Regions from separate parts of the Homo sapiens genome. Here regions 1 and 2 are each linked to region 3. The links come from fine-mapping of genetic effects on gene expression. A gene starts in region 3. Each other region holds a variant in brackets. All regions are shown on one strand. Distances are from middle to middle.

The links. PIP is the estimated chance that this variant, and not a neighbour inherited with it, causes the effect.
Region 1: its variant is the best candidate, but not a certain one, in a credible set for the expression of RHOBTB2-AS1 in testis (GTEx, PIP 0.89).
Region 2: its variant is the best candidate, but not a certain one, in a credible set for the expression of RHOBTB2-AS1 in lung (GTEx, PIP 0.76).

The regions. Positions count from the first base shown.
Region 1 is chr8:22,868,003-22,872,155 of GRCh38, reverse strand. The region is part of intron 3 of PEBP4 (phosphatidylethanolamine binding protein 4); the gene reads left to right. Among named protein-coding and RNA genes, the nearest start is that of PEBP4-AS1, 7.9 kb to the left of the region's middle. The variant A/G (reference allele first, on the strand shown) is at 2,490.
Region 2 is chr8:22,984,753-22,988,905 of GRCh38, reverse strand. All of the region lies in intron 1 of RHOBTB2-AS1 (RHOBTB2 antisense RNA 1), which reads left to right. It also overlaps a transcript of RHOBTB2 not described here. Among named protein-coding and RNA genes, the nearest start is that of RHOBTB2, 13 kb to the left of the region's middle. RefSeq lists an enhancer at 458-1,214. The variant A/G (reference allele first, on the strand shown) is at 2,208.
Region 3 is chr8:22,997,528-23,001,680 of GRCh38, reverse strand. RHOBTB2-AS1 (RHOBTB2 antisense RNA 1) reads left to right here and starts at 1,876. Exons shown (of 2, transcript XR_007060857.1): 1 at 1,876-2,002. RHOBTB2 (Rho related BTB domain containing 2) reads right to left here and starts at 2,133. Exons shown (of 10, transcript NM_015178.3): 1 at 1,576-2,133. RefSeq lists silencers at 1,424-1,473, 1,804-1,973, 2,194-2,453.

The DNA of each region.
Region 1 (4,153 bases), 130 kb after region 3:
TATGGTGTATACATACCATAGGATACTACCCAGCCATGAAAAGGAATGAAATAATGTCTTTCACAGCAACTTGGATGGAGCTAAAGGCCATTATTCTAAGTGAAATAACTCAGGAATGGAAAACCAAATATCATATGTTTTCACTTATAAGTGGGAGCTAAACTATGAGGATGCAAAGGCATAACAGTGATATAATGGATTTTGGGGACTTGCGGGGGGAGGTTGGGAGTGAGGGATAAAAGACTACATACTGGGTACAGCATACACTACTTGGGTGACAGGTGCACTAAAATCCCAGAAATCAGGGCAGGCGCGGTGGCTCACACCTGTAATTCCAGCCCTTTGGGAGGCCGAGGCGGGTGGATCAGGAGGTCAGGAGATCAACACCATCCTGGCCAACATAGTGAAAACCATCTCTACTAAAAATACGAAAATTAGCTGGGCATGGTGGCACGTGCCTGTAATCCCAGCTACTCAGGAGGCTGAGGCAGGAGAATAGCTTGAACCAGGGAGTTGGAGGTTGCAGTGAGCCAAGATCGTACCACTGCACTCCAGTCTGGCAACAGAGTGAGACTCGGTCTTAAAAAAAAAAAAAAAAAAAAATCCCAGAAATCACTGCTAAAGAACTTAACCATGTAACCAAAAACCACCTGTACCCTAAAACCTATTTAAATAGAAATAAAAATGAAAAAAAAAGAATGTTATGGGGACTAATTATGATAATAGATGTAAATCTCTTAGTACAGGACGAGGAGCTAAATCTGTAGTGACTATTATTATTCCAGAGAGGTCTTCCTAGGTCCTTTAGTGCCCATGGGCAGAAATGAAACTACATTTCCCACAACAGTGATGGGGGTGCAAAATGTGGGCCCAAGCCTAGAGGGGAACTGTCCTTAGGACAGAACTGCTGTCAGAGAGAAACCAGTAGGTTGTTTGATGTTCGCTTCTAGACAGAGGCTGGACTCTTGCTCCTGCTTTCCGGGGTCACCTATCCCAGCTCTTCCTGCTTCTTTTTCCACCCACCCCCGACCCCTCACCCCCAGGGCCCAGCAGCATTTCAGTGGATTAAAGGATCCTGCTTCACCCAACTTTGGGATTGGGGGTCAGGCGTAGCAATAGGAAGTCTTTCTTTTATTTTCCTGGGTTGAGCAGGAAAGAAACAAGTCCAAGTGCATCTGTAGAGGATCCTCCAGAACGTTCCCTTTCCACCTTCATCAATGGCCATCTTTGATCCTGAGAATCTTGAGGTGAGGGTTGCTCCAAAACAAAACCCCTTCTCTGGCAGAGGTCCCAAGGGCTTCTCTGGATAGGTGAGAAGTAGCCATTTAGAGCCTGCAGATCTACTGTTTGAAAAGACCTGTGGCCCATTCAACTTTTTCTCAATAGACTTTACTTTTTAGAGCAGTTTTTGGTCCCCAGCAAAACTGAGCAGAAGCTGCAGAAAGTTCCCACATACACCCCTGACTCCTCCCATTCCCCCACTCCCCACCACTCACTATCAACATTCTCCACCAGAGGGGTGCATTTGTTACATTTGAGGAACCTACATTGACATGTCATTCTCACCCAACGCCCATACTTTACATTAGGTTACGCTCTTGGTGTTGTACATTCTATAGGTTTAGATAAATGTATAATGACAAGTCTCCACAATTGTAATATCATACAGAGCAATTTCACTGTCTAAAAATCCTCTATGCTCCACCTAGTCATCCCCTCCCTCACTCTTGACCCCTGGCGACTGCTGATATTTTACTATCTCCATAGTTTTGCCTTTTTGAGAATGTTGTATAGTTAGGATCCTACCGCATGTAATCTTTTTAAATTGGCTTCTTTCACTTAGTAATATGCATTTAAGATTCCTCTGCGTCTTTTCATGGCTTGGTAGCTCATTGCTTTTCAGTGCTGAATAATATTTCATTGCATGGATGTGCCATGGTGCATTTAACCATTCATTGACATTTTGGTTGCTTCCAAGTTTTAGCAATTATGAATAAACATCTGTGTGCAGGTTTTTGTGTGAAGCCTGGATTTGTTCCAGGCTGGCTGGTGCAGGTTTTGTGTCTTGAAACCTAAGTTTTCAAGTCCTTTAGGTAAATATCAAGGAGCATAACTGCTGGATTGTATGCTAGGAGTATGCTTAGTTTTGTGAGAAACTGCCAAACTGTCTTTGAAGGCAGATGTCTCATCTTGCATTCCCACCAGCAATGAATGAGAGTTCCTAGGGCTCCACATCGTCATCAGCATTTGATGTTGTCAGTGTTCTGGATTTGGGCCATTCCAATAGGTGTATAGTGGTATGTCATTGTTGTTTTAATTTGCAATTCACTAGTGACATATCATGAGCACCTTTTCATATGCTTCTTTGGGACCTGTATATTTTCTTTGGTGAGGTGTCTGTTCAGATCTTTTGCCCATTTTTTAATTGGGTTATTCATTTTCCTATGGTTATGTTTTCAGAGTTCTTTGTATGTTTCGGATCCCAGTCC[A/G]TTATCAAGTATGTCTTTTTCCATGGGTATTTTCTCCCAGTCTGTGGCCTCCTTCAGTTTTGTTCCCTCTTCTTGTGTGTCCAGCAGATTCACAGCTCCTTATGAAAGAGGTGCCCAAAACAAGAGCAGCTATGGGGGAGCATGGCTTCCTGGGGAAAGTCCATGAGCCTGTAACCACCTTTCACTTTGAACCCACATTTGTTTATTCTTTAAACACTTGCACTGTGCCCGGCACTAAGTCCTGAGGACGCATCTGTGAAGGAACGAGACAAAGCCCCAAGTCTTGTGGAGCTCACTTTCTGGTAGGGGAGACATACACAAAAATAAATAAACAAACATAAATATATATAGGGAAAAACATACACAAGTATACCATACAGCGATCTGGAACCCAGTCCAGTGTAAGAGCAGAACAAGGGAGACAAGAGGCACTGGCACAGGGGACATTTACAACATAAATAGGATGGCAGAGTGGACTTCACTGAGAAAGGGATATTTAAGCAAAGAGGATGAAGATGGAACCAAGAAGGCAGAGAAAGAAGGCAGAGGGGCCAGCCAGTACAAAGGCCATGAGGCAGGGGAGTGCCTGGTGTGTTTAAGGAACTGCAAGGAGGCCAGTGTGGCTGGAATGAGTAGCGTGGAGGAGAAAGATGTAGGATGATTTTGGGGTGGTATCTGCAGATCCTGTAGGGTCTGGTGGCTTTTGCTCAGAGAGAAATGGGGAGCCATGGGAAGGATTTGAGTAGAGGAGCGAGATGACCTCACTTAGGTTTGAACACGACTTCTCTGGCCACCATGTTGAAAACAGGCTGCCCAGGATGCCCAGATGGAAGGAAGGAAGGAGGCTAAGTGTGATAATCCAGGTAGGAGATGACAGAGGAGGTGAAGTCGGTGAGACGTGGTCAGATATTGAGCCAACAGCATTTCCTGCTAGATTCGATATGGGGGTGAGATAAAGAGGAATCCTAGATGATGCAAAAATTTTTGACCTGAGCCACTGGAAGGACGTAGTTGCCATTAGTTGAGAGGGATAGGAGCAGGTTTAGGGGTCAGGGGGACATGTTTTGTTTACACTGTTTGACATCCTGCTGGAGAGGTCAGGCACACAGATGTTGGGCAGATGGGTTTAGAGTTCAGGGTTGTTTGTGTATATGAAATTGGGCTGAGTTCTGTGGGGAATAAAAAGGAAAAATAAAACCCAATTCCTCCCACCCCTACCTCTACCCAGGACTTACTGGGGAGTTGGAGAGAATGCAGGCAGGCAGCACACACACCGGGCACACCCAGAGGAAAGCAGCTTTTCTGAGACTCCCTGGAGGCTTGAAAGCAGGCGAACAAATCCAGGCTACCAAAAATCACACTGAAGAGACAATCACAAAGACAAATCCCCAAACACCTTGACTGCTCACTACTAAAAAGCAGTAAGAAGAGAAAACCAGGGGGGTGTTTTCCCGTCTCCAGCAGCAAAAGCATAGACATTTCTGACCTGCAAAGATGCTCACAATGGCTCCTCATGGTCTGTCTTCCCTCTCTACTGACAAGGCAGCTAAACAGAGGGGGACCCAACCCCCAACATCTGGGGCAGTGGCTTCAACTCTGTCGGCAGCCACTTATCAAACAGCCAAATCTACCCTGGACCCCTGCCAGCCGGGCTGGGCTAGATC
Region 2 (4,153 bases), 13 kb after region 3:
TGCCACTTCTGCAGAGCCCGTGCCCTTCTCCACCTGTGTCGGTGGAGGCTATCAGCCTCAGCCCCTTGTCTGAGTTATCATAGCCTCGCTAGCATCTGTCTCAGCCCCAACCCTTCCAAAAGCCAGGGTGACCCATTCAGCTACTCCTTTGCGAGGAAGTGACAGCAGCCTGGCTGGGTTGTGGGTGGGGGAGTGGTTGGGGGTCTCTGTTGCCCTGGAAGGAATTCCTACAGTAAGCCTGAGAGCTCCTGGCCAAGTGTGGCTACAGAAAGGAACAAAATTTGGGGGGCTGAGGGCAAGAGAGGGAGAGGATTAGGGATGCTGCTCAGTTTCTCTTGATAAATGGATCCTGCTGCCTGAAGGATGGGGAGCTCCCAGAGTTGGGTGGAGCCATGAATGGGCCACCCAGGACGTGGGAGTGAGTAGTAAGAAAAGGGGGAAGGAGGTCAGGTGCGGTGGCTCACGCCTGTAATCCCAACACTTTGGGAGGCCGAGGTGGGCGGGTCACTTGAGGTCAGGAGTTCGAAACCAGTGTGGCCAATATGCTGAAACCCTGTCTCTATTAAAAAAACAAAAAAATTAGCCAGGCATGGTGGCAGGCCCCTGTAATCCCAGCTACATGGGAGGCTAAGGCAGGAGAATCACTTGAATTCGGGAGGCGGAGTTTGCAGTGGGCCGAGATTGCGCCATTGCACTCCAACCTGGGTGACAGAGTGAGACTCCATCTCAAAAAAAAAAAAAAAAAAAAAAAAGGGGAAGGAGCAGGACAACAGAGATGCTGGAGAGCAGCCTTCAGTTGGGGAGGGGCAGGAGATAGAGTGGGCATGAGGGCCTAGGCGGCCCTTTATCACAAGCTGTTCCTGTGTTCCCCTTGGCCAGTGACCCCTCTGGATGGATAGGATTCAGTGGGTTGTGGGGGGTGGGGTGCAGTGTCATCTACTTGATCTTGGGGGCCTTCCGTTCCGTCCTGGCCAGGGTCACAAGGAGAGAGTGGCATCCAGGCCTGCCGCTGGCACATGGCGACTGGTGACACTCCCCCTGGACACCCTCATGACGAGTGGAAGCCCTCCACCTCCTGCCCCAGATCTGGCTGCCACAGGTTGCTGCTGGGCCACAGTCCAGGGGCCACCGCACCTTGATGGGGAAGATTCCTGATTGCTGATTGCCCCCACCCCTCGTGCTCCCTTCACACATCCCTCCTTTGGAAGAAATCTGATTCTGAGAACTGGAAATTGTGCAGTGCTGTGAGTGACCAGGTGAAGATAGGTTAGAGAAGCCAGGGCTTGGAGATCCCTCTCTTTTCCCTGGGCACAGAGCAAGGGCCCAAGGATTGTAGACTTACCTGCCACCTCGCCTCTGGGGCTCTGCTGGCCTGTCACTATTCCCTGTCCTGAAGTAGTGTTCTCGACCAGGTCTGCAGGAAGAAACAACACAAGGGTTTTAAGGGCTGGGATCCAAAGTCCAGCTTATGGGAAGGCAGGTGAAGGACATGATTCCTGTGACCAGGGGGCCGGCCTGCTGGTCAGTTCCCTCCTCCTCCAGGGCTGTGCAAAGCCCAGAGATAAACCCTGGGCCAGAGGCTTTGTTCCCCGTCCAGGGCTGTGCAGAGCACAGAGATAAACCACCTAGACCGGAGGCCCTGTTCCCCATCTTTGGCCAGGTGAGCATTCTTGATGCCTGGCCCAGCCCCTGGCCCTCAGGGCACTATTTTGGTCCACATCCTGCTCTTATTGTCCTGGCCTGTTCTTCTCAGCCCCTGGTGACTCACACTGCTTTGGAATTTCACTCACTGGCCTTTCTGACGCACATCTTGAGAGCCTGGCCTACAGCCAGGGAACAAGTTATGGCTTCAACCCCACCAGTAATTAATTCTGGCTACCTGAGCTAGAGGCCATGGAAGGTGGGGAGAGGGAAGGCCACGAAGAAGCAAGGTAGGGGTGGTTGCTGGTTGATGGGAGGAGGCTTTGCTCCTACTTCTGCTCACCTGCACACAGGTAGAAAACAAACAGCAGAAAAGCTATCGGCTCACAGTGGCCGGACATCCGGGGCTGGCCAGCCGGGAGACATGTGAAGCAGGACTGATCTAGTGTAAAATCTAGACTGGCCATTATGCTTCTTGGAGTGGATTTCTGGACCTTAGTTTACCTTTTTGTGAGTCCTATAGGTTTGATAGCTCCTGATTTGGGATGCTAAGGACCTTTATACTG[A/G]GGTGATCATGCCTCCATGTCACTCCAAATTACTTGAGCTCTGTTTTCTCTCCATTTTCAATATGTTTTGACGGGTTGGCCCTGGATAGAATTCTGGAGAAGGGAAGAGAGAAAGAAAATTGCCATAACAATGCACTGGGGGCCAGGCGTGGTGGCTCATGCCTGTAATCCCAGCACTTTGGGAGGCTGAAGTGGGTGGATACTTTGAGTCCAGTAGTTCAAGACCAGCCTGGGCAACACAGCAAAACCCCGTCTCTACAAAAAATTAGCCAGGCATGGTAGCCCATGACTGTAGTCCCAGTTATCCAGGAGGCTGAGGTGGGAGAATCATCTGAGCGCAGGAAGTTGAGGCTGCAGCTGCAGTGAGGCACTGCACACCTGGGCGAAAAGAGTGAGACCCTGTCTCCCAGAAAAAAAAAAAAAAAAAAAAAAAGCAATGCACTGGGCTGGGAATCGAAGACCTGGATTCATTTCCAGCAACCCATTCCCTGGCAACCCCTTACCAAGTGCCTCATCAGTTAAATACGAAAGAGAGAGAGAGAGAGAGAGAGAGAGAGAAGTCCACCGTCCTTGCAGTGTTCCCTCCCATGGGTCTCTGATGTTCGCTGCAGTCACTGGCAGAGGCCCCCTGGTTCTCCACTCCTCTGGAAGGCAACTACTTTTCCCATCTCTTACTTAACTGTCCTTGACCTGCTTCCCCCTTCCAGCTTCCCAGGCTTGAGGGGTCCCAGCCTTGCTCCTGCGCCTGCTAGCACCTCTGTTGAGAAGGGCTTTGTGCCGCCTGCTGGGCTGACTCCTGTGGGTGCACTGGTGGGTAGGCCAGGGGAGAGCCTGAGTGGGTTCTAGAAACAATGCCCTTACATGTAACTCCAGCCCGAAGAGTGACTCCAGGCAGAGGAACGGCTGGCCAGGTCAGGGGCATTGGAGTGCCTGTGAAGACACACCCTGAGGTCTGGTCAATCCTCTGCCTTCTCATCAGGCAGGTCTGGCTGGGAATGTTCTATAGGGAATGCCGGAAAAGCATGCTTCCAGCCCTCCATCGCACCTTCCTCCCTGTTGGGAAAAGGGCTTGTGGGGCGCCTGCATAAACTGGCCATAAAAATATGGGACAATAAGTTGTGGAAAGCCACAAGAGGCCTCTGAGGAGGAAAGCCTCCTAATTGCCATCATGTTCCCATGCTCAGAGCGAGACCTGCTCTCTTATCTATAAACACTGTGTTCAAGGAGAAAGACACTCCTTTGAAGCATTGGAATGTGGACAGACGTGCAGCCTCCTAGTTAAGCACACTCCCACTAGCTCCTCTCCGATAAGTTAAAGATACGCTGTTTGAGCACAAAGGAGATTCATTTAAACCGCTATTGCTATAGATTACGCCTGTGACGCAGTGCCTCCCTTTCACTGTTTCACCCTGAACATCTGCTTCTTAGATCGAAGTGATTGTACTCAATAAATAGTGTGGAACCAGAACTCTGGGCCTTTTGCAGCCTCCATTTTGCAACTGGCCCCCTGGCTCCCACCTTTATGAACTCTTAACCTGTCTCTTCTCATTCCTTTGTCACCACCAGACTTTGGGTACCCTATGGGTGGTGTTGAGACTGGTCCCCAACACTCCCTCTTAGCCACACCCATGGGAACCACGATCATTTGGGAAGATCAAAGGACTAAGGGGTGGGGGTAGGAAAATGAGTCTGGGCCTCTAATTCTATACCAATGACTATAACAGATTTTTTTTTTTTCCTAAACTGAAAACACTCTTTTTTTTTCTTTTTCTTTTTTGAGATGGAATCTTACTCTGTTGCCCAGGTTGGAGTGCAGTGAGTGCAATGGCTCACTGCAATCTCTGCCTCCCAGGTTCAAGTGATTCTCCTGCCTCAGCCTCCTGAGTAGCTGGGATTACAGGCATGCACCATGATGCCCGGCTAATTTTTGTATTTTTAGTAGAGAC
Region 3 (4,153 bases):
TGAAGACATTGGAAGAGTCTCCTGAACCGTGGTTAATTTGTGCCAAGAGAGGCTGGGCTGAAAGGAGGTATTTGTCTTCTTATGTAATGTGGTATTATATAATGCTAGATTGCATATCTATATGTGTAATTATATCTGTCTTTAAGATACAGACTGGCCCAATTCAAGTGTTAGAACTCTTAGTCTAATCAGGCCTGTCTTAAAGGAGGATCCTGTCCTGGAGAGAGTGTGCCAAGAGTAATATAATTTTTGCCCTAGGATGTTGCTGATGTTGTATCATTGCTGATGTATGGTGATACAGCCCACTCATTGCTGATATATGGTGATACAGCCCATTCAGTGAGCCTCTCAGCTTCCCCTCTCCCTCCGGCTCTCTCTTCTTCCCTGACTCCAGACTCTCCCTCACAATTGCCTCATCCCCACTCAATCAACCTCCATAAACTATGACCTCCTCACCACCCAGCCCTGGGCATCACAACCCCCAACTCACTCCTCTTCCATGACAATCGCAAAGTCACTGGCATGTGTTCCTTCCATCCCTGTCCCATGATCCCTGTGCCCCTCCAAAAACAGCCTCCTGCCCACCGCTCTCCCAGCTCTTTGTACTTGGTGCAAGCCAAAACCCAAGGTGTGCTGAAATTAGCTACAAACCTCGTGCTCTCCCAGTCCCACCCCCACACCCCTACACACACTCTTTGCAGAGCTCAGAAAGGGCCCCTTTCCCTCCCACAGCTGATAGGAGGCTTGTTCATCTGTGGCTGCCCTAGTCTGGTTGTCAAGGAAACAACAGAATCTCCCTGGGAGCCTGGCTTGTCTCCTAGCAACCAGTATCCCACATCATCTTACAAAATGGGAATGGGAGGAAAATCCTGAAAATGAAGGTAAAATCAAGGGAGATGGATTGAATGGAGAATTGGAAGGAGAAGAACAAAGAGAGAGTGGACTCCTAATTCGGGGAGGCTCCCACGGGGGTCGCTGGCATTGCAAGAAGCCCCGTGCAGATCCAACAGAAAGCAAGGCCCAAAGGGACCCTGAATGGTCAGATTAAAGAAATGCAAGCCTAAACACAGATAAGCCCCCTCAAACCTAAAATGTGGACACATCACCAAACACCGCCAAAGATCTCCCCAGTAGTTTCACAGAACTCAGTTACATAGACTGCAATGGAGTTGAGTTCAAAGAACCAGCTCCGGAACCGCCAGCAAAACACCCCAATTCCACTGTTGTTTTGTGTTTGTTTTCTTAACAGAATCACTCCCACCACTCTGGACCGTTTTTCCTTTTTTCTGACACGCTACTCTGCACACACACAAAATAGAAATTTAAAAATTTTTAAACATCGAGAAGGGGGAGGGGCACGACAGGCCGAAGCAATCAAGTCATCTTCCTTTCCCTAGAAACACCGGAAAGGATTAGGCTCCAGCCCCGCTGTACCCAGCAGCCGAAGCCAGAGCCCAGGGACTAGCGGGGCCCGGGGAACGTAGCGAGGGGCGCGGCAGGGCAGGGAGGGCGGAGCGGCGCGTCTGCAAGGGCTGCTGGCCACCCCGCCATAACCGCAAGCAGCCATCTACTTACACCACTACATGTGACGGGGTGGCTTCTAGCGTGAGGAACACATCTCTTCCTGCTGAGCACGCTCATTTTAGTGAAATGTCAGGGGTCCCTCCGCGCCTGCAAGTTGGGACGACGCCGGCGCCGCCGCGCTGCTGCTGGGCTCCAGCCTCCCGGCCAGCTCGCGGCCACTCAGAAACTCCGGCAGGGCAGCCCAGGCCGGACGTGGGCCCAGGAGCGGACGCGCGCGCTGCACTGCAGCCGCTGCCCCTTCCGGATCAGCATCGCCCCGCGCGCCAGGCGCCCAATGTCACGGCGGCGCGCGGAGCCGGGCTGCGGAGGCAGCGGGCGGCGCGCAGGGGCGCCGGGAGAGGGGCGAGGCCGCCGCCGCTACGCGCCCGGGCCCGCGGCGAAGGCGCTGCCGCGAAGACGCCTGGCGCTGCAGTCCCAGGTACCGCTCGCGACCTCCTTTTTTCATTCACAAAAAAAGGATAGGGAAAAAAAAAAGAAAAGAAAAAAACGGGAGGGTAAAAAAAGGAGGAGAAAAAAATCGCACCCAAGACGACAGCCGTGACGGGCCCCGCCCACTGCCGCGCGCAGTTGGTGGAAAGCGTTCGGGGGGCGGGGAGGGGGCGGGCGGGGGAAGAAGGGGATTGGACGCCCCGCAGATCCCGCCTCGCAGCACCGCTCCCGCCCACCGCCCGCGCTCTTCCGCCCCTCCCGCAGCGACGCCGCGGGGAGGGTCTCGGCTCGCGGGTCTGGGTGGCGCCGGTCCCTCCACCTGGCGAGGCGCAAAGGCTCTCCGGACGCCCACGGGGTTTTCCCCTTTCCTTCGGGAGGCGGGGGAGAACCTCTGAGAGGCATCCTAGTGCACCCTGGAAGGGATGCTAGTTGGAGGAGAACGTGTGGTTGTAAGCCCAGGCCCCCACCACTTGCCCACGGGGAGGCGACGGCAGGGGCAGTCGGGGGGGCGGGGGGCGGGGGCCGGGTAGGGACGAATAACCGGCGTTTCCATACAAGCCCTCTGCTGCTTTGGGAATTTTCGTGGCACTTGAGAGCCTTCCTCCCTCCATGGCCCTTAATGAGTTGTGGGGTGGGTACCTGTACCACGTTACCTGTCTCCCACCTAGGCCTTCTTCAGCGGGTCCCCACCTCCATCCCATCCCCCTCCTGTTGCCTCCTGGAGTTCAGTAATAGCTGCTAATCTCTGAAAGAAACACCATGAAGTGAGTAGCCTCGAAAATCGTCCCTAAGCCTTCTTTGGGTTTTCTGCCTCAATTTACCCCTCTGTAAAATAGAGAGATTCTAAGGTATAACATCTATAACCTGAGGGGTCCCTAGAAGACACTTTCCATATTCAAGGCTGGTTTTATCAGGATAATCTTTTTTTTTTTTTTTTTTTTTTGAGTCTCCCTCTGTTGCCCAGGCTGGAGTGCAGTGGTGCAATCTTGGTTCACTGCAACCTCCGCCTCTTGGGTTCAAGCAGTTCTGCCTCAGCCTCCCGAGTAGCTGGGACTACAAGTGCACGCCACTATTCCCAGCTAATTTATGTATTTTTGGTAGAGACGGGGTTTCACCACCTTGGCCAGGCTGGTCTCGAACTCCTGACCTCGGGTGATCTGCCTGCCTTGGCCTCCCAAAGTACTAGGATTACAGGCGTGAGCCACCATGCCCAGCCAGGATGATCTTGACTGCTAGTGTTAAGTAGTCAGCTCAGTCTGGTTTGATTCATCTCCTCAGTTACCTCTGGACAATTTTTAAAGCCCAGACCAGCCTGCCACCCACCTGAACCGCCTCCACCACTCCTCCATCTTGTGCTCTGAAAATGCAAATCCACTCTAATATTAGTTTATGCAAAATATGATTAGGAAGAGAAATTTACTGCCAAAAGAAAGCCGGGTTAAAAATGAATTTTGTGTTGTCTGAAGCATGCTTCTCATCTGTGAATGCATATACTTGGAAGCTGTCCCTCAAGGTGTTTGTGATCAACGTGCCTACCTACCTGGTCAATGTACAGGAAGTGCTCGGTTGTTGGAGGATGCTTCTCCCACCCCTTTCTCAATCTACTCAGAGCTAGCCAAGAGGTTAACAATGACTGACAGTGCTACTTACTTCTCATTTCTGGTTAGAACTCACCCTCCATAAACCAGAAAGTACTTATTTGAATACATATTTAGGAGAGAAAGTAAACCATGCTCACACATGTTCTTCCTCCACATGTTTGGCATTGAAGAGACTTACCCCATCTTCTGTGTGCCAAAGAGCCCCTGCGCCAGAGAAAATCATAACTTGAGATCTCTGCATGATTCCCACGGCAGGCCAGGGTCTCTCCCACGGACACCCTGTTCCCTCCACCCACCTCCAGAGACCAGCTGAATGCCAGATGCCAGTTGACATCACCTTTCACCTGTCCTGGCAGGACCATAGCCCCTGTGGAGCAAGGAGTAGGAAGACAGAACTCCCGTCCACCCAAAGTCATGAAGCAGGAGAGGGTGGCTGCTCGGACTGTAAGCTAGAGCCAATGCCCTTTCTGCCTTGGGAGAAAAAGCCAGCTCAGCCTGGAAGCCTCAACCAGGCTGGACTGTGTGAATTCCAAGGTGTA